Linked DNA regions of Homo sapiens. The protein of the gene in region 4 purifies or fractionates together with the protein of the main gene of each other region. This does not show direct contact. Each region holds a gene or a part of one and is shown on either strand. Other genes may lie near its edges. The genes, in order: DNAAF5, TPX2, TBC1D2B, GSTM3, OXSR1, LARS1 and CAP1.

Evidence for each region.
Region 1: the proteins of GSTM3 (region 4) and DNAAF5 purify together in Homo sapiens (affinity purification with mass spectrometry; one large-scale study listed by BioGRID and IntAct). This does not show direct contact.
Region 2: the proteins of GSTM3 (region 4) and TPX2 purify together in Homo sapiens (affinity purification with mass spectrometry; 3 studies listed by BioGRID and IntAct, with this or other methods). This does not show direct contact.
Region 3: the proteins of GSTM3 (region 4) and TBC1D2B purify together in Homo sapiens (affinity purification with mass spectrometry; one large-scale study listed by BioGRID and IntAct). This does not show direct contact.
Region 5: the proteins of GSTM3 (region 4) and OXSR1 purify together in Homo sapiens (affinity purification with mass spectrometry; one large-scale study listed by BioGRID and IntAct). This does not show direct contact.
Region 6: the proteins of GSTM3 (region 4) and LARS1 fractionate together in Homo sapiens (co-fractionation; one large-scale study listed by BioGRID). This does not show direct contact.
Region 7: the proteins of GSTM3 (region 4) and CAP1 fractionate together in Homo sapiens (co-fractionation; one large-scale study listed by BioGRID). This does not show direct contact.

The regions. Positions count from the first base shown.
Region 1 is NC_000007.14:750,699-754,198, forward strand, and holds part of DNAAF5 (dynein axonemal assembly factor 5), read left to right. Parts: intron 1-3,500. UniProt on the Homo sapiens protein: Cytoplasmic protein involved in the delivery of the dynein machinery to the motile cilium.
Region 2 is NC_000020.11:31,798,290-31,802,300, reverse strand, and holds the end of TPX2 (targeting protein for Xklp2), read right to left. Parts: intron 3,937-4,011; coding exon 3,749-3,936; intron 1,332-3,748; coding exon 1,221-1,331; 3' UTR 501-1,220; downstream 1-500. UniProt on the Homo sapiens protein: Spindle assembly factor required for normal assembly of mitotic spindles. Required for normal assembly of microtubules during apoptosis. Required for chromatin and/or kinetochore dependent microtubule nucleation.
Region 3 is NC_000015.10:78,015,212-78,018,711, reverse strand, and holds part of TBC1D2B (TBC1 domain family member 2B), read left to right. Parts: intron 1-754; coding exon 755-865; intron 866-1,972; coding exon 1,973-2,166; intron 2,167-3,500. UniProt on the Homo sapiens protein: GTPase-activating protein that plays a role in the early steps of endocytosis.
Region 4 is NC_000001.11:109,733,437-109,735,737, reverse strand, and holds the end of GSTM3 (glutathione S-transferase Mu 3), read left to right. Parts: 3' UTR 1-1,801; downstream 1,802-2,301. UniProt on the Homo sapiens protein: Conjugation of reduced glutathione to a wide number of exogenous and endogenous hydrophobic electrophiles. May govern uptake and detoxification of both endogenous compounds and xenobiotics at the testis and brain blood barriers.
Region 5 is NC_000003.12:38,228,037-38,231,536, reverse strand, and holds part of OXSR1 (serine/threonine-protein kinase OSR1), read right to left. Parts: intron 1,851-3,500; coding exon 1,802-1,850; intron 1,173-1,801; coding exon 1,107-1,172; intron 1-1,106. UniProt on the Homo sapiens protein: Effector serine/threonine-protein kinase component of the WNK-SPAK/OSR1 kinase cascade, which is involved in various processes, such as ion transport, response to hypertonic stress and blood pressure.
Region 6 is NC_000005.10:146,179,851-146,183,785, forward strand, and holds the start of LARS1 (leucine--tRNA ligase, cytoplasmic), read right to left. Parts: upstream 2,801-3,935; 5' UTR 2,644-2,800; coding exon 2,638-2,643; intron 1-2,637. UniProt on the Homo sapiens protein: Aminoacyl-tRNA synthetase that catalyzes the specific attachment of leucine to its cognate tRNA (tRNA(Leu)).
Region 7 is NC_000001.11:40,064,729-40,068,228, reverse strand, and holds part of CAP1 (adenylyl cyclase-associated protein 1), read right to left. Parts: intron 2,015-3,500; coding exon 1,909-2,014; intron 690-1,908; coding exon 512-689; intron 1-511. UniProt on the Homo sapiens protein: Directly regulates filament dynamics and has been implicated in a number of complex developmental and morphological processes, including mRNA localization and the establishment of cell polarity.

The DNA.
Region 1 (3,500 bases), on a different chromosome or scaffold from region 4:
AAACCAGTCCCAGCCTGTGTCCAGGCCTTGCGTACCCCTGCCCAGCACCGGCCAGTATTTCTTTGGAAACACCCAGAAGCCCAGGTGCCCACAAAGCTCTGTTCAGCTGTCAGCAGACCCCTCCCCGGCTGTTCCTGGTCACGCATCTCTCATTTTGCAAACTTTCCAGAGCGGATCGTCATCAGGAAGAAAGGTGCAGCTGGGCGTGGTGGCGCATGCCTGTAATACTGAGGTCAAGAGTTCAAGACCAGGCTGGCCAACATGGTGAAACCCCATCTCTACTAAAAATACAAAACTTAGCCAGGTGTGGTGGCATGCACCTGTAGTACCAGCTACTCAGGAGGCTGAGACATGAGAATGGAGAATTGCCTGAACTCAGGAGGTGAAGGTTGCAGTGAGCTGAGATCGCACCATTGCACTCCAGCCTGGATGACAGAGCGAGACTGCATTTCAAAAAAAAACGAAGAGAGGTGTGTTTGCACCCTGGCTTTTTTGTTTTTTACAAAATGATGACAGGATCATTTAAACAGCCAGCAGAATTTTAATTATTTGGAACTAATTCCATAATACAGGATAAAAACAGAAAAATAACCAGAAAAAGGTTAAAAATGGGGTGTCCTGGTACAAGCTGTTCTTATTAAAACATACCCTTTAGCCTGGATGCAGTGGCTCACACCTGTAATCTTAGCACTTTGAGAGGCCGAGGCAGGAGGGTTACTTAAGCCCAGAAGGTCAGTGCTGCAGTGAGCTGTGATCGTACCACTGCACTCCAGCCTGGGTGACAGAGTGAGACCCTTTCTCTAAAAATAGAAAAAGACCCTTTAAATCCTGACATATCATGGTTTCATTTCTATCTTTACAGTTGTTCTGAATTTTTTTTTTTTTTTTTTTTTGAGATGGAGTCTCACTCTGTCGCCCAGGCTGGAGTGCAGTGGTGTAATCTTGGCTCACTGCAACCCCCACCTCCTGGGTTCAAGTGATTCTGCTGCCTCAGCCTCTGAGTAGCTGGGATTACAGGCGCTCGCCAGCACGACCGGCTTATTTTTTCTATTTTTAGTAGAGACGGGGTTTCACCATGTTAGTCAGGGTGGTCTTGAACTCCTGACCTCAGGTGACCCGCCTGCCTTGGCCTCGCAAAGTGCTGGGATTACAGGCATGAGCCACCGTGCCCGGCCTGAATTTTGAAGATCAGAATCTTTTCATCAAAGTCCCTGAAGGCTTTTCTGTAGAAATCGACAAACTGATTGTGAAATTCTCGTGGGCGTGCAAAGGACCCACAGCTGCCGAAACACTGGGGAGGAGTGAAGCTGAATGGCAGCAGGTCCTGGGTGCAAGACTCACAAAACCACAGTCATGGGGCCACGTGGTGTTGGCTTTCAGACCGATGAGCAGAACGAGAGCGTCCAGAAACAGGCGCCCGCACGCGGACCACTGACTTGATGAAGGCTCAAAGACCATTTAATGGCATCTTTTAATAAGGATACTGTAAATGATAGGATCACTCATACACCAGAAAGTGAACTTGGAGTCAAAAAATTAACCCCAGATGCGTCAGGGATCTGAAGGTAAAGCCCAGAACCGCAGAGCTAGGGCGAAGCCTTTGTGACAGTGGGCCGGGCCACACTTCGTGGGATACGTCCTCAAAAGACCGCAGAGTGATGACGAAGCCTTTGTCACCGCGGGCCGGGCCACGCTTCCCTGGGTGCATCCTCAAAAGACTGCAGAGTGACGACGAAGCCTTCGTGACCACGGGCCGGGCCACACTTCGCGGGATACGTCCTCAAAAGACCACAGAGTGATGACGAAGCCTTTGTCACCGCGGGCCGGGCCACGCTTCCCTGGGTGCATCCTCAAAAGACTGCAGAGTGACGACGAAGCCTTCGTGACCGCGGGCCAGGCCACGCTTCCCTGGGTGCATCCTCAAAAGACCGCAGAGCTAGGACGAAGGCTTCGTGACCGTGGGCCGGGCCACGCTTCCCTGGGTGCGTCCTCAAAAGACCGCTCTGTAACAGGGTAAAGCAATGTGTGGACTTCATCAAAATGAACACTTCTGCTTTTTCAAAGGCCTGTTGAAAAAACGAAAAGACAAACCAAAGACTGAGATGTTTGGAGATGATGTATGTAAGGATTTATCTCCAGAGTATAGGAAGAGCTCTTGAAACTCAGCAGGAAAACAATCCATTTTTTTAAATGGGCAGAAAACAATTTGGAAAGACCCTTTACCAGGGAAGATAGGCGGCAAACAAGCCTGTGAAGAAGACGCTCGGCGTCGTTAGTCATCGGGGAATGCAAAGGAAAAGCACACGGAAATGCCACTGTGCCTCTCGGACTGCTTTCAATTCAAGACTGAGCGTACCGCGTGCCGCTGAGAGTGGGAAGGAGCGCGGACTGGCTCAAACACTTTGGAAAATGGTTGGACAGTTTCTAAAACAGTTAAACGTGCACCTTCCCTGTGGCCCAGCCCTTCCACAGCTGGTATTTGTCCCGGCACAGTGAAAGCCCAGGCCACACAGACTTGCCCTGGACACCATTTGAATGCTTCTCCACAGAGGAGCGGGCACTAAACTGGCATCTCCCCAGAACAGGCCACTTCCCAGGTTCAGAAAGGAGCGGGCACAGGCGGGCCTCAGAAAACGATGCAGAGTGAAAGAAGCGGAGAAGGGAGGAGAGTGAACGAGAGGCTTCCACTTGTGTCAGGCTCTAGAAAGTGCAGCTCAGTCACGGGACAGATCCAGGGGTGCCGGGGTGCCTTGGGGGCTGCAGTGCAGAGGAGCAGAGGAAGCCGGGCGAAGGACGCAGCTGTCACCCCCACCATGCCGATGGCTTCGCAGCCGTGTCTCTCATATGGCGATGGCTTCGAAGGCATGTCTCTCTGATCATATGGGGACGGCTTCACAGACGTGTCTCTCATCATATGGGGACGGCTTCACAGGCGTATCTCTGTCATCATATGGCGATGGCTTCGCAGGCTTGTCTCTCTGATCATATGGGGACGGCTTCGCAGGCGTGTCTCTCTCATATGGGGACGGCTTCGCAGGCGTGTCTCTCTGATCATATGGCGACGGCTTCGCAGGCGTGTCTCTCTCATCATATGGCGATGGCTTCGCAGGCGTGTCTCTCTCATCATATGGGGATGGCTTCGCAGGCGTGTCTCTCTGATCATATGGCGACGGCTTCGCAGGCGTCTCTCTCTCATCATATGGCGATGGCTTCGCAGGCGTGTGTCTCTCTGATCATATGGGGACGGCTTCGCAGGCGTGTCTCTCTCATCATATGGCGATGGCTTCGCAGGCGTGTGTCTCTCTGATCATAGGGGGACGGCTTCGCAGGCGTGTCTCTCATCATATGGCGATGGCTTCGCAGGCGTGTGTCTCTCTGATCATAGGGGGACGGCTTCGCAGGCGTGTCTCTCTGATCATACACGTCAGCACGTGTGGCAAGTGTGTTGTTTGCATCTCTGTGTGGCTCTAAATGTTTGTTTTTTGAGACAGGGTCTCGCT
Region 2 (4,011 bases), on a different chromosome or scaffold from region 4:
CTGTGTGAAGGCATAACATACATGATTAAGTGGTTACTGAGAGAGAGTTAACAGAATATGGAGATATTCTGACATAAGACAGAAAAAAATTACAAAGTACTGTCCTGGGCCGGGCATGGTGGCTCACGCCTGTAATCCCAGCACTTTGGGAGGCCGAGGCGGGTGGATCACAAGGTCAGGAGATCGAGACCATCCTGGCTAACACGGTGAAACCCTGTCTCTACTTAAAATACAAAAAAAATAATTAGCCGGGAATGATGGCGGGCGCCTGTAATCCCAGCTACTCGGGAGGCTGAGGCAGGAGAATGGCGTGAACCCAGGAGGCAGAGCTTACAGTGAGAAGAGATCGCACCACTGCACTCCAGCCTGGGCGACAGAGCGAGACTCCATCTCAAAAAAAAAAAGTTCCTGGACCCACCTCTCAAACTACCCATTTCCCAATAAGATGTGACCTCCAAAGGGGCTTAACAGATTTAAAAACATCAAATAACACAATCAGGGAGGGAAAGACAAAACGTATTTATTCCAGGCCAGGTCTTAAAATGCACACTGCACGGTTCCCTGTTGTTATCAGCACCAGTAAGGAAAGAACGTGCCTTAACGGCAGCCCCACCCAGAGCCTGCTGCGTGGCTGCTGTGAGGCTCCCCATGAATCCACGCAGTCTTCTTCCTCACTGGTGCAGTTGGTGAGGTTTTCTACCCTCACAGCAAAGGGATCCTTAACTATAAATTCACGGTATGCAGAGAAGAGGACAGAATCTGATTTACTGATTGTTCCTCATTTAAACCATGACTTAATCTCTATCTTAGGATTTAACTATCTTTATTTTCTGGTTAAAATTTTTAAAAAAAGTGGGGAGAGGGTGAGAGTCGTAAGGGGCAATAGCAATAGAGATTACACTGTGCTGACACAGAGACTAAATTCTAGTCAGAGTGAAGACCCATATAAAAGGCCGGCTGATGGTTTAAAGGAAGTAACTACATGGAGTCTAATCGAGACATTCATGAGTTACATCTCATTATTAGCCTTAGTAATGTAAGAAAACAATTCTCAACAAAACTGGAGTCCACAGTTGTCAAGTATGCTTTCTCAGGCACGGGTAGGTAAAAGTCTGGAGAAATGGGTTCTCTCCATGCCCAATGACAAAGCAAGACGGTCCTAGGTTTGAGGTTAAGAGCAGGTCCCATTGCCGGGCGGTATCCGCAGCTCACAGCTGAGTTTAGCAGTGGAATCGAGTGGAGAATTTGGGAGATACAGGCACAGTCAGAGGCTGGTCACTTGACTTTATCTCCAGACCCTGGTACTTGCGTATTGGATTTGCCTTATGCACCTGCAAAGTAAGGAAAAGTTACCAGTGAGAGGGATGTCAGAGAACTACGCTTATAATTGCTTTTATTTTTTTCTTTTTGAGAAAATGTTTGTAGAGTTTTACAGGTCCCAGTCACTAGTTTCAGGTGTGGGGAGTGGGGCCTGGGGGGCAACACGGTATGATGGAAAAGTGTATGTGCTTTGGAGCCCAAAAGGGTTTCTATTCAGGTCTCTATTGGGTCCCCCAGCTTTCCTTTAGGCCACAGTCTCCTCAAGTCCCTCAGCTTTCACTAAAGAATGCCAAACCTATGTCCTGTGTGATTTACTAGGGTATAATAGGGCTGTACTCAAGTATAGCAGAGAAGTTACAAGCTAAGAATTTCCCAGAGTACAGTCTTAAGTTTACTGACTATAAATATTCACCAAAAGCCTGAATCCTGGGGAAAAAGCAAAAACAAAACACAACAACCATACCAGGAAGGGTGGCTAAAGAAGGCATGGTCCCATCCATCCTTTAGGGTAGTCTAAAATCAATCCTAAATCAAGCCAGATTAGTAGAGAGTTAACCAGCATTGACTGAATTGTGCTTTACAATGTTGCCATCAGTTATGTTGAGAATTGCTGCAAGAAGCAGTTCTATAATGGGGACAAACACAAGAGGCAGGTACCAAATGCTAAAGAAAAATCAAAGTTGAGGCCGGGAAAAAAGGCTGATTGTATGAGTGTATATAGAGTGGGGATTATACTATTTTCTCATTCACTCAGCAAATGGTAGTCTAGATTTTACCAAGAGGCTGGTCTCCTAAATAGTGTGTCCGTGGAACCTTCCTATGGGCATAATCACCTATGCCAATAGCTGCCAATAGCTGTTTCAACTGCTAGTCTAGCATTTTATTTATTTATTTAAAATAGAGATGGGACTTTGCTATGTTGCCCACGCTTTTCTTGAACTCCTGGGCTCACGCAATCCTCCCACCTTGGCCTCCCAAAGTGTGAGGATTACAGGTGTGAGCTGCCACATCCAGCTGTAGTATAGCACTTTTAGACAAAACCTCAACAACTTACACTTCTTTTTTTTTTTTTTTTTTTTTTTTGAGACAGTCTCGCTCTGTCACCCCCAGGCTGGACTGCAGTGGCACAATCGGCTCACTGCAACCTGGGCCTCCCAGGTTCAAGCAATTCTCCTGCCTCAGCCTCCCGAGTAGCTGGGATTACAGGTGCGTGCCACCATGCCCGGCTAATTTTTGTATTTTTAGTAGAGACAGAGTTTCGCCATTTTGGCCAGGCTGGTCTCCAACTCCTGACCTCAAGTGATCCACCCACCTGGGCCTCCCATAGTGCTGGGATTACAGGTGTGAGCCACCATTCCTGGCCTTCTTTCTTTTTAATTGACAGATAACACTGTATATTTTTATTGTGTACCGCTGATGTTTTAAAGTAGACATACATTATGGAATGGTTACTATGTGAGATAATGCATTTGTTAATTAGCAAGATGCTAATTAACATTGTAGTGTGAGCACATAACATCCACTTATTGTAGTGTGAGCACATAACATCCACTTTCTTTACAGTTTTCAAGAATACAATATATCATTAACTACAGTCACCTTGTTATATGATAGATCTCTTGAAATTTACTCCTCCCATCTAACTGTAACTAAGTAACCTTTTACCAACATCTCCCCATGACCCTTTCTTTTTTTATTTATCATACGAAGTTCCATCTAAAACTGTCTGCTTCTTCATTAACACAGTTAACACAACTTGCTGCCCTCCTAGCAGATTGGTCCTTAATGTGGAGTTCAGGTTTCTTTTTGGATAACCAACATCTAAATAATTATGTTAGTAGAGGATTACCTGGAGCGACGAACACTGTAACTCCAAGGAGTTTGGGCTCAGTATTAAAACAAAAATACAGTTGCCATTTAATTCCCATGTCCTTCGCTATGTATTCTTGTCTAATTACAAAACTCAGTGGTGCTTCTTAACCCCAGAGGAAATAATAAGTTACATAAATAAAATAAACAAATAAATAAAAAACAGTCCTAGGAAAGGCATCATGGTTATACCACATGTTGTCCTCCTTATGAAAACTTCCGGAAGAAATTCTGTCTAAAAATTCACTATCAAAGGGATAAATGTATTTTTTGAACAACTGTCTTATGTCTCATGAACACTGCGAGTTTTGTAACTGACAGGTTGGTTCCTAAAAAGGGCCAAAATTACAGCTCCTACTTAGATCACAATGTACACATCGTTAGCTTCATTCACAACTCAACTTCATCACCACCCTCAGTTTGTGCAATTCCCCCTTTCACTCATTGTCTTTGGTACAGCCTTGCGGGCTACCTTAGATCCTGTCTGGTACAAGGTAAGGTACAGGTAAAATAAAACAGAGGCATGTTTGTGTTCGTCAGTGCTCATGCTCCCAGTTACCAGTTCTCTCCGTAGCCTGGCCAGCTCCTCTTTTTTCTGCTCTTCCTCCTGTAGTCTGGCCTCCTCCAACTGCTGGGCTTTCTGGGCTTCTACCTCAGCCATTCTCTTCTCCAGCTCCTGCCGCTCTTTGGCTCTCTTCTCAGTAGCCAGCTGAAAAGGTTCCTGAACTAGAGAACCAGAAAGGCCCTCTAAGTACAGAAACAGAAAAAATATTGGTGCACAAGCAGGACTTGCATAAACCTACGCCCCCTGGAATGAGCAAG
Region 3 (3,500 bases), on a different chromosome or scaffold from region 4:
CTTGGAGTTTCAAGGGCTGAAGCCAATATGACATGTGTCCTGCCCCGACCTGCTCTCAAAGTTGGACTCGGCAGAACTTGTCACCAGCTTGTTATGTTCTTTTATAGACAGAAAGCAAATAGGCAAAGGTTAACAATTGGCTAATTTAGGTGAAGGCTATATTGTGTTCATTGTACTTTTCTTTCAACTTTTCTGTAAGTTTGAAATTTTTCAGTGTTGAAGAATATGTTCTCTTACGTGCCTTATACGTTTTAGGTCATAGGATTTGTTATTAAGAGTGATTTTTAGTTATGGGCTGTATATGTATGTAGACTTTTTTTACGTAAACTGGATAAGTGAAGATGAGAACCTTCAGAAAATATGTTCAGTTTCTCTAGTTTAAAAAAAAGTAAGGTATTGCTTTTTTTTAACCACCTCAATGAATATGGAATATGGATAGATAAAATATTTGCATAGATTTAGGAATATGTCATATTTATTTCTCCTGTCATCAGTTGAGAAAAACTACCACAATTAAATAAAAATATCTTCTCCATCTCCGTTACGGCAGTCATGCCTGCCTGCCTTCTACTACTGTAAATGGCCAAAAAGATTAATTAGGAAGTGCCTTTTAACAACTTCTAGTTCTTTAGAACTTACTCTAACTTAGCAGGGCTATTTGATTGGTGAAGCAGCAAGCTACTGACTACATAGGGTAATTAATTAGTCAATATTCAACCAATGTGAATTCAGGGATTTTTTTTTTTTCTAACAGGATAATCTACAGGGGTACAAAACCCAAAACAAATTTCTAAATAAGGAGATTTTGGAACTCTCAGCTCTACGAAGAAATGCAGAAAGGAGAGAGAGGGATCTGATGGCAAAGGTGGGTCAGGATAGGTGGATTCTATTACCTGGTGGGAGGTAAGGTTAGGAAACCATTAAAAATAAGCATGCTTTACAAAGCGGTTCAACTCCCAGGCTTGGAGAGATGTGGTTACTGATAACAAAATATATTTAAAATACATATAATACATAGAGCTGTATAGTTAGTCTCATTTTATTATCTCTGATGAAGACAGATAAATGCCGTGAGATGTGAGTTTTTCACATAAACTGGATAAGTAAGAATGAGAAGCTACAGAAAATGTGTTCAGTTTCTCTAGTTAAAAAAAGAACATAAGGTATTGCTTTCTTTGTGTACCTTTGTTCATAAGCATTTTTAATAGATTTTGAAGAAAACAAAGTAAGTACATAATTATAAGGTCACCTAAATTAAGATTATTTGGGTTTTGATTTATGCTGTTCAGTTTTGTATTTATGGAGATGGTGAGGTAAATGCCTCCTCTGTGAACCCAATAGGGTTGGTGTGAAAGTCAGATATGATTATGGCTGGAAGGGGCTTTGCACAAAGTGTAATGGGACCACAAACATTTCAGCTGTCATCAAATGAGCTGTAATCAAATGATACTTGTCAACAGCTGTTATATACCTGATATACTTTTTTGAACAGAACTTGAAGCATCTTCCCAGACCTTATTCCTGCATGTTTTCTAGGGTATATTTGATTTGTCTGATAAGGTGGCAGATGGGAGCTAGTCCTGGACCACAGTGTCCTAAGAAAGAATGGGTATAGCATGGAGTGGCCACTCATGGGCCATGTGCCAGATGGCACCGAGCTGGACCTCAGTAATTGGCATGTAGCCTGGTTCCTGCTGCTCTCTCCACCTCTGTCCAGAGGTGATGCATTTGTTGGCATCCAGAGGTCTGATTATCAGCACTCCTTCTATAAGGAAGAGAGGAACCCACTGCAGGCCATTTTAAACATGAAAGGTGGTCTGTGGCATAAATTAATTTCTTGTCTTTGCTACAGTCTGTCTCTGGCTCACTTCCTAATAGTTTTGGGTTTGTTGTTCACTGGTCATTTGCGTACCTAAAGATTGCTCTTCCTGTGTCTCTGTCTGAATGGAGGTAACCACCACATTCTCTGCAGTATTCTAGCCTGGAAGCCAAGCTCTGCCAGATAGAAAGTAAATACCTGATATTGCTCCAAGAAATGAAGACACCAGTGTGCTCAGAAGACCAGGGGCCCACCCGGGAGGTCATAGCCCAGTTGCTGGAGGATGCTCTGCAGGTTGAGAGCCAAGAGCAGCCGGAGCAAGCATTTGTTAAACCTCATCTTGTCAGGTAAATGTGCTAGTGACTGTTGAGGGTAGTGCACCCCATTTCTGAAGTCCCTTTTTCAACAGCAGGAACCATTCGCAGAGAGCCGTACACAACTGTGTGTCTCATTTGGTGCTCATGACAAATGCTGTCAGGTCAGCAGAACGGTAATGTCTTCATTCTCCCCTAGTAATCAAGTCATAGAGCGGGGACTTACCACAGGTCTTCTGATTGCAAGACCTATTTTTCGTGTAAGTAAGGGAGCCTTCCTTCTGATCCTTCCTTACTTCAGGAGGAGCCAGTCTTCCAAGGAATAGGAACCTTCTCCTAAAACATAGCCCTACCCACAGGTGGTTCAAAACAAAGGGACCCTTAAGTGGGGAACTGAGCTTACACACACACACACCCCCCATATATTTTTGGGGAAAGCACTAAATCTGGAAGCCAATGATGGATCTTGGATTAAGAACCCTCTCATAACCTGTCTTCTAAAAAATATGAGACTCATGAAATACTTGAACCAGGAGAAATCTACAGATTCACGCAGTTCAGCCTCTTGTTTCCACGACTCAGGACCAGCCCTGTGTCTAGGCCTTGCTTACTGCAGTCTCCTTGCTTCTCCTGCCCCACCCCTGTAGGCCCAGGTGAAGCCTTGCTTCAGTTTGACATGACCTTTCCCTTCTCTGAGCTTACAGCACCAGCCTGCATTGTTTGGGCTACTCAGATGACAGAAATATGCTCAGAAAGTACCCAACACCATCTTTACTAAACACTTTTATGGATGTTTGCCATGTGCCAGGAGCTGTGCTAAGGGTTTTATGTGCAGAGTTGTACTTAATGTTCAGTGAGGTGAGTGTTTTTATCCTCACTTTACAAGTGAAGAAGCGGAGTATGGAAGTGATATAACTTGCCCAGAGTCACCCAGCCTGTGAGTGGTGAGGACAGGCCCTCAGCCTGGATAGTCGGGTTCCCAGGTGCAGTAGCTCCACCAGTACGCTGGGCATTGCTGCTTTGCTCATCGTGGTGGCTGTTAACTTCTGTGAGCTCTTGGAGCGCTTCTAAACGTGCTGTGTGTTCTTCCCATGCAAAAGCGTTTTGTGCTCTTACTATTTATATTGTGTGTTCAAATTTTATATATAAGTGAAATAACCATATATATTGGTTTATTTTCAACTTTTTCTTATGGAAAATTTAAAACATACAAAGAAGTAGACAGAATTATGTAACATATACCCCTGTGTGCAACTAACTTGAGCAATTGTTAATGTTTTGCCAATATAGTTTCATTTTACCTCCTCACTCCCCACAGTTTTTTTCTGGAATATTTTATTTTATTTTATTGTTTTGTTTTGTTTTAT
Region 4 (2,301 bases):
CTGGGAGGCAGAGGTTGCAGTGAGCCGAGATCACGCCACTGCACTCCAGCCTGGCTACAGGGCGAGACTCTGTCTCAAAAAAAAAAAAAAAAAAAAAAAAAAAACATTCAAAGAGACATATACTAAGATGTTCACTGTGGCATTGTCTGTAATGACAAATAAGTGGAAACCGTGTAAATACCTGTCAATACTATGGAGTACCATGTGGCAACGGAAGAATGAGACTGAACTGTGTGAACTAACATGCAAAGATCCCCAAAACAGGCCAGGTGTGGTTGCTCACAGCTGTAATAACAACACCTTCAGAGGCTGAGGTGAGAGGATCAGTTGAGGCCAGGAGTTTAAGACCAGCCTGGGCAACATAGTGAGACCCCTGTCTCCCAAAAATTTTTTTTAATTAGCTGTGCGCAATTGCTCATGCATAGTCCCAGCTACCCAGGAGGCTGAGGTGGGAGGATCACTTGAGCCCAGGAATTTGAAGCTGCAGTGAGCTGTGTTCTTGCCACTGCACTCCAATCTGGGTGACTGAGCAAGACCCTGTCTCTTAAAAAAATAAAAAAGATCTCCAAGCATAGAGAAGAGTCTGGAGGGAAACACCAAACTCATAACAGTCTTACTGCAGGCAAGTGGGATAAAGGCCCAGACTCCATGGTGGAAGTTAAAGGGCATTTCCAAGTTAAGGCTAAGACTTGCTTTTCTAACTAAGAGAATGTGCTCATGCATTGCTTGTGTAGTAGAAACTAGTTTTTAGAAAAGAAAGCAAACTTAAGAAACACTGACTCCTGTGGAGATGACTTGGCACCACTCTCCTTTCACAGAGCAGAGTCTGAATAGTCTTCAGAGATAGGCCTGTGGGCCAGATTGCCATCCCCTATGGACCAGAAGCCAAGGATCTCTCTAGTGATGGTCAGAGGGCCCAAATGGCAGGGATACCCAGTGATGTCAGGAGGAATAGTACAGACAGAAGGTGCTAAGCAGACAATTCAACTGCCATGTTTTGCCACCCCCTGTGAGCAGGGATTAGGTGTTCAGGCCAGTATCTTGGGCATGGGGGAGCCTTTGGCCAGAAGAGGTATAAAGCTCAGAAGTTTTTCAGTCTGATAACTATTGATATAATTTCCATAGTGTGAGGGAGCGGTATGCTCTACCCTTGTGTATTTAAGGCAGGACAGAGAAATTGAGGATGCCCCTGGGGCTAGATCGATGATATGACCAGAAATCAAAAAGGGAATGCATTATTTATTGCTGTGTAACACTGTTAAGAGAGGAGGTAGTTAAGGGATGGATAGGCACATAGAGAGGGAAGGTCTCAGGAGAAGGGATAGAAAGGAACTATGTTCACAAGAACAACGGCAAGACAGTGCCTATACTGCCTCTACAGTTAATAGGAAAAACGGAAGAAGTTACCCTTAAGCTAGGATGTTGCTCAGAAGTGACCATCCCAACTTTGGTGCGGGCACAATAAATCAGCCTAAATGTCCCTAATTTAACCCAGCTCATTATAATGTCATTAAACATGACATTAGCATTGTGGTTTTAGCACCCCCATGGGTTTTGCTTAGGCACTCATGGGTAATAACCAAGATGGAGTCCCTTTGGCAAAACTTAGGCATGCACAGCTGTAGTACCCCAAGAAGAAAATGTTACTTCTCTCATCTGGGCAAAACCCACAGAAGACTTCCCAGCTTCTGCCACATAAAAGACACAGAACACAGACGCCTTACTGGCAACCTGCTTTCAAGACCCCTGTCTTTGCTGAGAGCTTTCCTTTTTCCCAATAAATTCTACTCTGCCCTACTCACTCTCCATGTCCATGTGCCTAATTTTTCGTGGTCATGGGACAATAGCCTGAACCTTGCCATACTCCAGGGGCAAAAGAAGACTTCTACACTATTCCCACAAATTTAGCAGCTAAAACAATACATGTTTATGGTCTCAAAGTTTTGTGGATTAGGAGTCTGGGCACAGCTGAACTGGGTCCTCTGCTCAGGGTTTCATCTGAAAACTGCCATCAGTGTGTCATCCAGAGCTCTGATCTCATCCCCAGGCTCAGTGGGAGAAGGATCTGCCTCCAAGTCTGTGTAATTGTTGATAGCGTCAGTTCTTTGTTCCCTGTGGGACAGAGGCCCTCCATTTCTCATTGGCTGTCGGCTAGAGCCACCTTCAGTTCCTTGCAAAAGGGATCTCCTCAACACGGCCACCCATTTCACCAAAGCTAGTAAAGGAGTCTGCTGGAAGAAGGAACACTACAGTCCTATGTAATCTGATCACAGCAGTGACATCCCATCACCTGTTCTTATT
Region 5 (3,500 bases), on a different chromosome or scaffold from region 4:
AGGGTACTGTTTTAGTAATCAGAGAATATTATTCTGAGGAAAGGCCAATTGAGTAGACTTGACATAAAGTGAAGGAATGAGCCAAGTGAGTTTTTAACCTAGTAGCTATCCATGAGAATAATTGTCCAGGTCTCATCCACTAGAGTCATGACTTTAATTGGTTTGGGATGACATTGTCCATGTTTCTTTCTTTTTTTTTTTAAGTCCCCAAGTGATTCTGATATGTAACGATGCATTATAGCCACTGAAAAAGATATATCTCTAAAATAGAGACAAGTTAACTGTTTTACCAGTGCTTATTAAGAATATCATTTCCAAGTATTTAATATACATTTCTGGTTCTTCATTGTGTTAAATTCTTGGAATGTATCAAAATTCCCAAGCAGTGAGATCTACGGAAGAGAATAAGCCACTGCTAGACATAATGCTTCTAACTTCTTGGACAGGCCTACCACTATATTATACAAGGTGTAAGACCTTTACCTTCTTCAAGTCTATCATCAGCAGAAGCCCAAACTGCCTCCTTTCCTTCACATTGGATAAGTCTGCTTGAGCAGAGAAGTAAGAGTGAGGAAAAGGGAGGATTTTCTTCTCCCTGCTCTCACAGAGGTTCATAAAAGTATCATGGACAGGAAGATTAATATATTCTGCCCAAACTGAGATATTAAAGCATTCTGTATGCTCACATCATGACCAAACTTCTTAGAAATTACATATGCGTAATAAAGTTCTTTCAGTCTTTCTGTAAAGGCAGTAGAAAATTTGGAGTTCCAAAGAGGGTACTGTGACTTATACCCAAAGCTATAAATGTCATGTAAAATCACAACTCACTCTGGTAGCTGGAAACAGTTATCAAACAGAGTTTAGAATTAATTTACCAATTACTGTCTAGCATCCCTTTTCATCCTAAAAGATAGCAGAGTAATACCAAGGCATATGGTAGACCAAAGATATTTGCTGAATGAATGTATCAAAGAATGCTTTAGAAAGGATCGACAGAAAACCAGTAATTCTCATATACTATTAACAATGTATTACTTAACATGTTTTCAAAATGCAAAAATAAAGTAAATTCTTCAGGAAAACTGAGTTAAATTCTGATTTACCTTTTTTGCTCTTTCAGAAATGGTTGGTGCTCTCTGCAATGTTTTTTCTTGAAGAAATTCTTTATTCTGGAGAGGAAAAGTAAGTATTTTGTTCTTACAAGTTTTTAAGGTACCAAAAAAAACCCACAAAAAAGTTCACCATAATCAAAATGTGATATAGTAACTGTTCTGTAATGAAGTGTGAGAAAAACTTTCATTCTTTCACTCTGAAGCTCCTTTAGTATGTTACTACCACAGTTTCATAAATTGAGGCAGAAAATTAAGATGTAGTACACTGTATGAACCACTGTCTATGAAGAGTTTGCTGTACTGTATGTTCTTTGAGATCATGGTCCTACATTTCCAACTACAGTAACATCCTACTATCTGATATATTTGGGAAATGAGATGTTTACAAATTCAGTAGTAAACCTTAAAACCAGAGTTCGGTATTTTTCACAAATTATATTTATAATGGCAAAATTTAATAATCATTGTTCCTATGATCAGTTTAACCTAATATTTAAAAACGGATTTACTAAATTCTGAAGCAATTATCTTAATTATCAAAGACTGTATACATAGTGCTTTCTGCAATTATTTTATCTACCATCATTTTTCCAAACATAATCATCCAACTTCTAAGCACTGAACATAATCTGAGTAATTGAGGAGCATCCTATGAACACACATAATCAAAAGCTGGAATTTCCTACCTTTGCTTTCTGGAAAAATTTGTGCCTTAATAGTTCTGCTGCTGTTGGTCTAAAACCAGGAAGGGAGGGAAGAAAAGTTTTTATAATTAATTCAAGTGTAATGTCAGATTCCATCATCAAAAATGAGAAAAAATTTTTTTCAACAGCAAAATAAAAACTCAGTATACTCTACTTTCCTTAAACTGCTAAAAAGCAAAAGTAAAATAAACTTGATACAGGACATTGAATAAAATAAAAAACTCAAAACAAATATTCTGATAATTATTGTAGATTCTTTGAAAAAATCATTAGTGAAATGTTTTTTCTGGAAGCATGATTTCTTAATAGAGTCTAATATATTTGCTATTTAATAATATTAATTTAATATTTAATATTATTTCCCAATAAGTAAGCTAGAAAATATCTATCTAACATTTTTAGCAAGGCATAAAAATATATTTAAACACACAAAGAGGAAATGGACCAAATCAAGACCTCCACTTCTTGCCACATGGTAGCCTGCCAGCCTTCAATTTAGGTAACCACAGATCCCTAAAAACAGATTTCACAATCTCCCTTTAAAAATGAAAATTCTAAAAGTATATTCCCCAAATTTAACAAAACTCAGTGTTTAACTCATTTCTTCATGGTCTTATTTCCTTTTAAGTAAAGACACGACTGTCAATTTTACAAGCTTTTAAAAGAGTATCATTCAGAATAAAGAATTTAACATTTAAGAGACTGGACCTGATTTTGCCACACACCTACCTGATCCTGAGCAAATCACAACCTCTCTAAGGTTCAGTATTACTTGGCCAAGCCCCTAAGTTCTTAAACACTGCTGTGCATTGAACTATCTGGGAAGAATGTAAAAATCCCAATGACCAGAGGGCACCATGGCTCATGCTTGTAATCCCAGAACTTTGGGAGGCCAAAGTGGGTGGATCACGATATCAGGAGTTCAAGACCAGCCTGGCCAATATGGTGACACCCAGTCTCTGCTAAAAAAACCACAAAAATTAGCAGGGCATGGTGGCGTGCGCCTGTAGTCCCAGCTACTTGGGAGGCTGAGGCAGGAGAATTGCTTGAACCCATGAGGCGGAGGTTGCAGTGAGCCAAGATTGTGCCACTGTACTCCAGCCTGGGCGACAAAGCAAGACTGTCTCAAAAACAAACAAACGAACAAACAAAACCAATGACCAGGCTGTACCTCAAACCAATTAAAGCAGAATCTTTAATTGGCTTTAGTAATGTTTAAAACTCCCCAGGTAATTCCAATAGGCATTCAAGTTTAAGAACCAGCACCTCAGATGATTATTATAAAGATTAAAAAGCTGAATAAATGTGAAAGTGCTATGCAAACTGAAATCCTACATTATCACTCTTATTTTTTCATATGCTCAACAATTGCTTCTCAATATGCTCAACAATGTGATTGCTCAACATTGCTTCTTATTATTCATTCCTTTCTTCTGACTTCATTTCCTTCTTTCTAAAGTACAACTTATGGGTTCTTTAAGTGACAGAACGTGACTGGAAAACTCAATTTCTGTGTGCAAAATAATTTCATGCTCATTCTTGAATGATAGTCTGACTAGCTGGAGAACTCTGGGTTAAAGTCACAGTCATGAGCCTCTTAATGCTTTGGCCAACAATATACTGTGTATCTGACAGTAGTCAGAGCAACAGGCTACACTAAATAGCCTAGGCATGCAGTAGG
Region 6 (3,935 bases), on a different chromosome or scaffold from region 4:
CCTTGGCTTTCCAAAGTGCTGACATTACAGGCTTGAGCCATCGCCTTTGGCCAACTTCCACTTTATTACTAAATTCCTCCTTAACCAACTTGAGTTGACTTCTGTTAAATGCAACCAATGATCTTAAGACATTTATGCAGTTGGGCTGTAAATTCTCAACAGGCAGGAACTTTTAAATTGTTTATAGTCACCTTAGCACAAAGTACAATGCCACAGACACAGAAGTTATGTAACAAATATCTTTTACCTAAAAATTACCATGAGCAGGACATGGGAACACTGAGGCCAGAGGATCACTTGAACCCAGGAGATCAAGGCTGGCTGCAGTGAGCTATGATTGCACTACTGCACTGCAGCCTGGTTGATAGAGTGAGTCCCTGTCTCAAAAAATAAAAAATATGGCCAGGTGCATTGGCTCACACCTGTAATCCCAGCACTCTGGGAGGCCAAGGTGGGCGGATCACTTGAGGTCAGGCGTTCAAGACCAGTCTGGCCAACATGGTGAAACCACAACTATACCAAAAAATACAAAAATTAGCAGCGCATGGTGGCGCACACCTGTAGTCCCAGCTACACAGGAAGCTGAAGTGGGAGAATCACTTGAACTTGGGAGGCACCACTGCACTCCAGCCTGGGAAAGAATGAGACTCCATTTCAAAAAAAAAATAAAAATAAAAATAAAAAATATGATCATGTCACCCATTGTAAAGAAGACTATGAAAGCAAGTCTTTTACAAATTACTTAGAACTATGTGTTTCTTTTCATTGTACTGAGTATGCCAAATGCAAGAAAGCTTTTATTTGAGTTTTCTGTTTCTCAGAAAAACTTGTTTCTCAAAACCTCAAAGATCAAGTATAATAAAATCTGATATTGGCCCAAACACCAACTTGTTGTATAACCTTGAGCAAGTCATTTGATCAATCTGAGACTCAACCTCCTCACTGGTAACAAAAGGCTATATAACTAAATCAGAGTTCCTAAACTTTGGCACTACTTACACTTTGGGCCAAATAATTCTTTGTTTTCAGGGGTTGTCCTGTGCACTGCAGGATGTTTAGAAGCATCCCTGGCTTCTACCCGGGATCCCTGCTTTTCACTTACACTGTTGCCCCTGCCTGGAAATCTCTTTCTTCCTATAGTTGCATAGGTTGCTCTCTTACCTCGTTTTTGCCACCTTTTTGGCAAAGCCTTGCTTGATCATCCTTTTAAAAATTGCAACAGGCCAGGCGCCATGGCTCACGCCTGTAATCCCAGCACTTTGGGAGGCCGAGGCGGGCAGATCACGAGGTCAGGAAATTGAGTCCATCCTGGCCAATGTGGTGAAACCCTGTCTCTACTAAAATACAAAAAATTTAACTGGGCATGGTGGCGCGCGCCTGTAGTCCCAGCTACTCGGGAAGTTGAGGCAGGGGAACCGCTTGAACCTGGGAGGAGGAGGTTGCAGTGAGCCGAGATCGCGCCGCTGCACTCCAGCCTGGCGACAGGGCAAGGCTCCGTCTCAAGAAAAAAACAAACAAACAAACAAAAAACAAAAAAAAATAAAACCAGGCGGGATGGCTCATGCCTGTAGTCCCAGCACTTTCGGAGGCTGAGACAGAAGGATCGCTTGACCCCAGGAGTTCGAAACCCTGTCTCTACTAAAAATACAAAAAATTAGCAGGGTGTAATGGAGCACGCTTGCAGTACCAGCTGTGGGGAGGCTGAGGTGTGAGGATCGCTTGAGCCCTAAGGTCCAGGCTGCAGTGAGCCATGATCACGCCACTGCATTCCAGTCTGGGTCACAGAGTGAGAACATCTCCCAAATTTAAAAAAATTTTTAAAAATTGCAACTGTACTACCCCACCGTACACTCCCTAGCACCCCTTCCTGCTCTATTTTTTCCCCACAGCATTTATCAGCACCTGACACAATATTTTACAATGTATTTTACCCACACACATAAACACTATGAAAAGAGAGATTTTTGTCTGTTTTACGGAGAGGCGCTCAATTTTTTCTTTTTTTTTTTTTTTTTTTTTTTTTTTTTTTGCTGTAAGTAGGAATCAACTTACATACTCCTCTCTCCACCTCGGCTTTATTTGTTTGTTTATTTATTTATTTTATTTTTAAGACGGAGTCTCACTCTGTCGCCCAGGCTGGAGTGCAGTGGCGCGATCCTGGCTCACAGCAGCCTCCCTCTCCCGGGTTCAAGCAATTCTCCTGCCTCAGCCTCCCGAGTAGCTGGGTTAACAGGCGCGCACCACTACGCCCGGCTAATTTATGTATTTTTGGTAGAAACGGGGTCTCACCATGTTGGCCAGGGTGGTCTCGAACTCCTGACCTCAAATGATCCACCCGCCTCGGCCTCCCAAAGTGCTGGGATTACAGCCGTGGGCCACCGTGCCCGGCTCTCCACCTCGATTTTAGAAACTCCAGAGAAATAACAAATATGATATCCAAGTACTCCGTAAAGTTAACAGACATCAGTTCGTGGTTCATAAACTAGCAAGAAAAAGCAAAGTCTCTACGAAAGGCACGCCTTAAGCGTGGCTCTCTTTTAGAAAAGGACTTTCCCTTCAGGACAGCACATGGAGAGCCCCTAGAGACTGGCCAGTCCGGCTCCAGGGCCCCTGCGGATTCTTCTCGCTCAAACTCACCGCCATTGCACCGCCCAGCCGACTGTGCAAATCCACGACAATGACCCTGGCGACCTCCACAAAGGAGTGGTTACCTTTCCCCTCCCTCTCGGGGATGCCAGGCCTCCCACGAAACTAAAGCACACGCTTCACACCTGCTGAGGCAATCATCCGGCTCCTTACTAACTACAGCCAAGGCATCTCACAGCCCGCCGGGAATTGTAGTTCCCAGACCACCCGAGCAGACACCCAGCAGGCGCTAACTGACTACAATTCCCAGAGAAAAACGGGTTATCGGAAGTCTACCCGATAGGCCCACTCAGAGGGGAACCGGCAGTGACGTCACTGGCATGTTGAACTACAAAGTCCATGATGCAGTGCGGGATCGCAGAATGCCGCGAGTGCGCCCTGGTTAGGTTGGAGTCCCTTGGCCATCAACCTTTTCACCCGGTAGAGCTGGTTGCCTGTCGGGATGCCAGGATACGCAGTTAATTACTATACGGTGACTGAGGTGCTACTTATGGCTTGCCACTATGCACAGATATTTTTTACTGTCAGTGGCATTCAACAGCCCAGCATTTAGACATTGTATAACCGCGTATTGACAATCTCCTTTTTTTTTTTTGAGACGCAGTATCGCTCTGTCGCCCAGGCTGGAGTGCAGTGGCGCGATCTTGGCTCAGTGCAACCTCGGCCTGCCGGATTCAAGCAATTCTCCTGCCTCAGGCTCCCGAGGAGCTGGGACTATGGGCGCGCGCCACCACACCGACTAATTTTTTGTATTTTTGGTAGAGACTGGGTTTCACCTTGTTAGCCAGGATGATCCCGATTTCCTGACCTCGTGATCTGCCTCCCTCGGCCTCCCAAAGTGCTAGGATTACAGGCGTGAGCTACCGTACCTAGCCAACAATCTCCTTTTTTTTTTTTTTTTTTTTTTTTTTTTTTGAGAGGGAGTTTCGTTCTGTCTCCAGGCTGGAGTGCAGTGGCGCGGTTTCGGCTCACTGCAACCTCCGCCTCCCGGGTTCAAGCGATTCTTCTGCCCCAGCCTCCTTAGTAGCTGGGACTACAGGCGCGCGCCACCGCGCCCAGCTAATTTTTGTATTTTCAGTAGAAACGGGGTTTCACCATATTGGCCAGGATGGTCTCGATCTCCTGAACTCGTGATCCGCCCGCCCCAGCCTCCCAAAGTGATGGGATTACAGGCGTGAGCCACCGTGCCCGGCCAACAATCTCCATTTTTAAGCAAGAGACTGAAAGCCTACCTGGTCCCATTGCCTGACTCAGACTATTTAGACCACTACCAAACAGGGCCAGGGGCG
Region 7 (3,500 bases), about 70 Mb from region 4:
CTTACAGTTGGATTTAGGTTGTTACACCATTTTTAGCTACTATGATCATAGATTCCTAGAAGTGGCTGGACAACTCAGACTTCCACCAGCTGTGTTAAGGGTATCTACTTTATACCAACATTAGGTCACTCTCATGCAAATTTTCCATGTAACCAGTATGCATCTTCTGAGGAAGTTAACTCCCTAACACAATGCCTTCCCAGAGGCCATGTGGTGCCACGGAAAAAGCTCTGGGGAAAACCGCCAGCTCTGTGCCTTGGCACAAGAGGGTCCTCTATATATGCTACCTAATATTAAGTCACTTTCCCATGGGGCAGATGGCTTCCTCCAACTGTGATCATCATTTTCAATTTCCATTTAAGCCAGCTTTGCCGTCCCTTAAAGGAACAGGACACACCAAACGAGTCTCCACCACACAAGCCAGGGTTGTAGTTTACAGACGGTTCTGGTTGGTGGGGTCTGGCCCACACAACTTGTTGTACCTACTGTTCGTGTCCAAGTGCTCACTCACCATGTGTAATGCTCTCCCCCTGATTAATCTGCGCGAACAGTGATGAGCGGGAAGCAGACTCATATGAGCATGAAATGGTAGAGACTGGGGGAGGAGGGGGGCATGGTGGAGGGGGAGGAGGACATGATCCGGCAGAGGGTCCAGATGGCAGTCCGCTCAGTTCTTTTGCCACAGGCCCCTGGAACAATAAGTGCAGGTAACATCATCATCCTCTCTGCTCCCCTCTGTACCATTCCCAGTAGTGCCCTACATGGGCCAGTGCACATGGGGTCCCCACCACAGCCTTTGAGGCAATGATTAATGTGTCCTACCCATACCCAACTTGGCTTTATGCCTTCTCACCCTTTCCCAAGGATCCAGCTCTCAGTTCTATTTCTTGACCATCACATTTTGCCTTTGAACTCACCTGATTCCAGCTCTAAAAACTATTTCCACAAATCTACTTGACATCTTCCTTAGTGTGTTACCAGTACCTCTGATTCAACAGATTCAAAACTGATTTCATCATTTCCTGCCGCTCCTCTCCCTGTACAATCATCCCCTTGTCCCTATTTCAGTGAAAGATGTTACTATCCAAGACTGACTATTCAATCTTCTTTGAGGATTCCAACTTCTTCGACCTTATCAAATCTCTATTATCTTGGTGCTATCTCCTGCAAATGTTTTTCTACTATCCCCCAAACACCATGACCACTTTCATAATCTGAGCATGAGTCCTTATCCCTAACCTATACACTGAGACTCTTTTAAAGACAAATTGAATCATTATCACTCCCTTGCTCAAATACCTCATCCCAAAGTCTCAGCCTACCTTCCTTTCCAGCCTTTTCTCCTAAAATTCTGATCATTTCCCCTTATTGAAGCCAGAGATGACCAATCTCTACATTTACTCTGCATGTATTTTGTTTAAGCTGTGCCTTTTGTAGTATCCCACTTCTCACTGCCCTATACTACTTTCAAGTCTCACAGAAGAGTATATACCTTCAAAGTACAATCTCTTCTAGTGAGAAGCACTCTTCTCTTCCTCATACTCTAGTCTGTATCTTTATTATAGCATTTGGCTTGGTGATTTGTATTGGGGTTTTGCATTCTTATTTTTAAGCTCCTTAAAGGCTGGGATAGTGTAACTCATTTGTGTGTGTCTCCTGCTCCAGCACCAATCACTGTCCCTAACATATTTATTGAAATTGAATACCACTGAATATTCCTTCTCCTCTGATCCTTGCTTCCTCTACTCTTTTTACCCTTTCTTTCTCCTCCTTTTCTTCCTCCCTTCCACTGAAAAAACTAGCATTCCCTCACAGACTTTGGTAGTGCTGAAGTCTAAGAAACCTGTGGACCCCATGCTGGAGAGAGAAAGTGGGAGGGAGGGAGGGAGGGAGGAAGGATTCACTAACCGTTTTGCTCCAGGCCAGTCCGGTGGTATGGAACTCCTTAATGTAAGCCTGCAGCTCTGTCCATATACTTAAATAAGCTTTGACCCAGTCTACATGCTTCTTATCCCTGGGAGGATTAAAGAAGAACTTGTCACAGGTGATCCGGGTACATAACAGTGGTGACTCCAGAACCCTTCTTTCCTATGGGCTCACATTCTCCTACCCGTGGTGTTTCTTAGGCTCCGCTCAATGGCAGCTTTTCTATCATCACCAGCTTCTATGTATATACAACCTAGTCTATTACCCTAATCAGACCAAACTCCACTAAGATAGAGACTCTGGATTCTATCTCTATCTCTCATAGCAATGTTTCTCAAACTGTTTTAAGTACCAAAACTTTTTTTTTTCTTTTGACCACTTGCTGCTTATTGAAACTTTTTTCAAAGTAGACCTTAAACACAATCTAATATGTAAAACTGATAAAAGCAGACATTCTGTGCATAAAACCATGGTAGAGAGGAGAGCTCTTAAGTATCACTGTGGAACTCTAAAGACTAAGAAACTTAACTGCCTTATGAGACAATGCCTTATGTCAAAATATGCCCACCCTGACCAAAAGCAAACTTAAAAACTTTCCCTTAGGGGGAAACAATCAGCCTTAAATTATAGAAATAGCATTGTGCCTACGGTTCAAGTCCCCTCTCTTCTTATGTATTAACTGGGAAGGTTATTTAGCCTAAGACCTAGTTTCCTCAACTGTAAAGTGATGGGATAATGGTGGGATATATCAAAACACTGTCATGCTTAATTCCATGTTGCTAGAAGGATAAGGAAGTGCCTGTTGTTCTGGGACACATTTCACTCACAGGAAGGTGTAGTTTTCCTTAAAAAGAGTAGTTAATAAATGTTTGTTGATTGATGAAGGATGGAAGAAAGGAAAGGCTTGTGTAGATATGCAACTTAATAAATTTTGCCTGCAATCATTCCAGCTCAAAACCAGCAATGGAGAAGTCAGAACTGGTAGACGTATGTGGTTAGACATGCAATGACTGCCCTACGTAATACCTGCATTGGCTAGGCAGCCTTACTCTCACTTTAACTGACTTCATGAAAAATTTCTATTAAGTCCTATTGAACCCTTTGCCATTGGGCCAGTAACAAATTCTCAACAAAGGAACAAAATCTTATATAAAGGGCATTAGTCCATGTTACTGCCAGCAAAACTTCCTAAACCCAGAAGGGTAAGGATCAGAAGACTAAAAGGGCCTCTACCAAAAAAGGAGAGAAAGCAGAAGTGGAAGCAGAAGTATTTCCTGCTTGCAAATGCAGCTGTGAGACAATATCTGTAAAGCTCTCCAGAAAGCAGCCCTGAGATAAAACCAGCACAGTGGCTAAGGGCAGCCCTCAGTAACTCCAAAGTGCTACTCCAGCAAGTAACCAAATGGGTTTATCCTTTACCCCTTGAGAAAAAGCTGAACTTGGCTGGGCACAGTGGCTCACACCTGTAATCCCAGCACTTTGGGGAGACCAAGGCAGGAGAATCATTAGAGACCAGCCTGGGAAACAGTGAGACCTCATCTCTACGAAAAAATTAGAAAATTAGCCAGGCATGG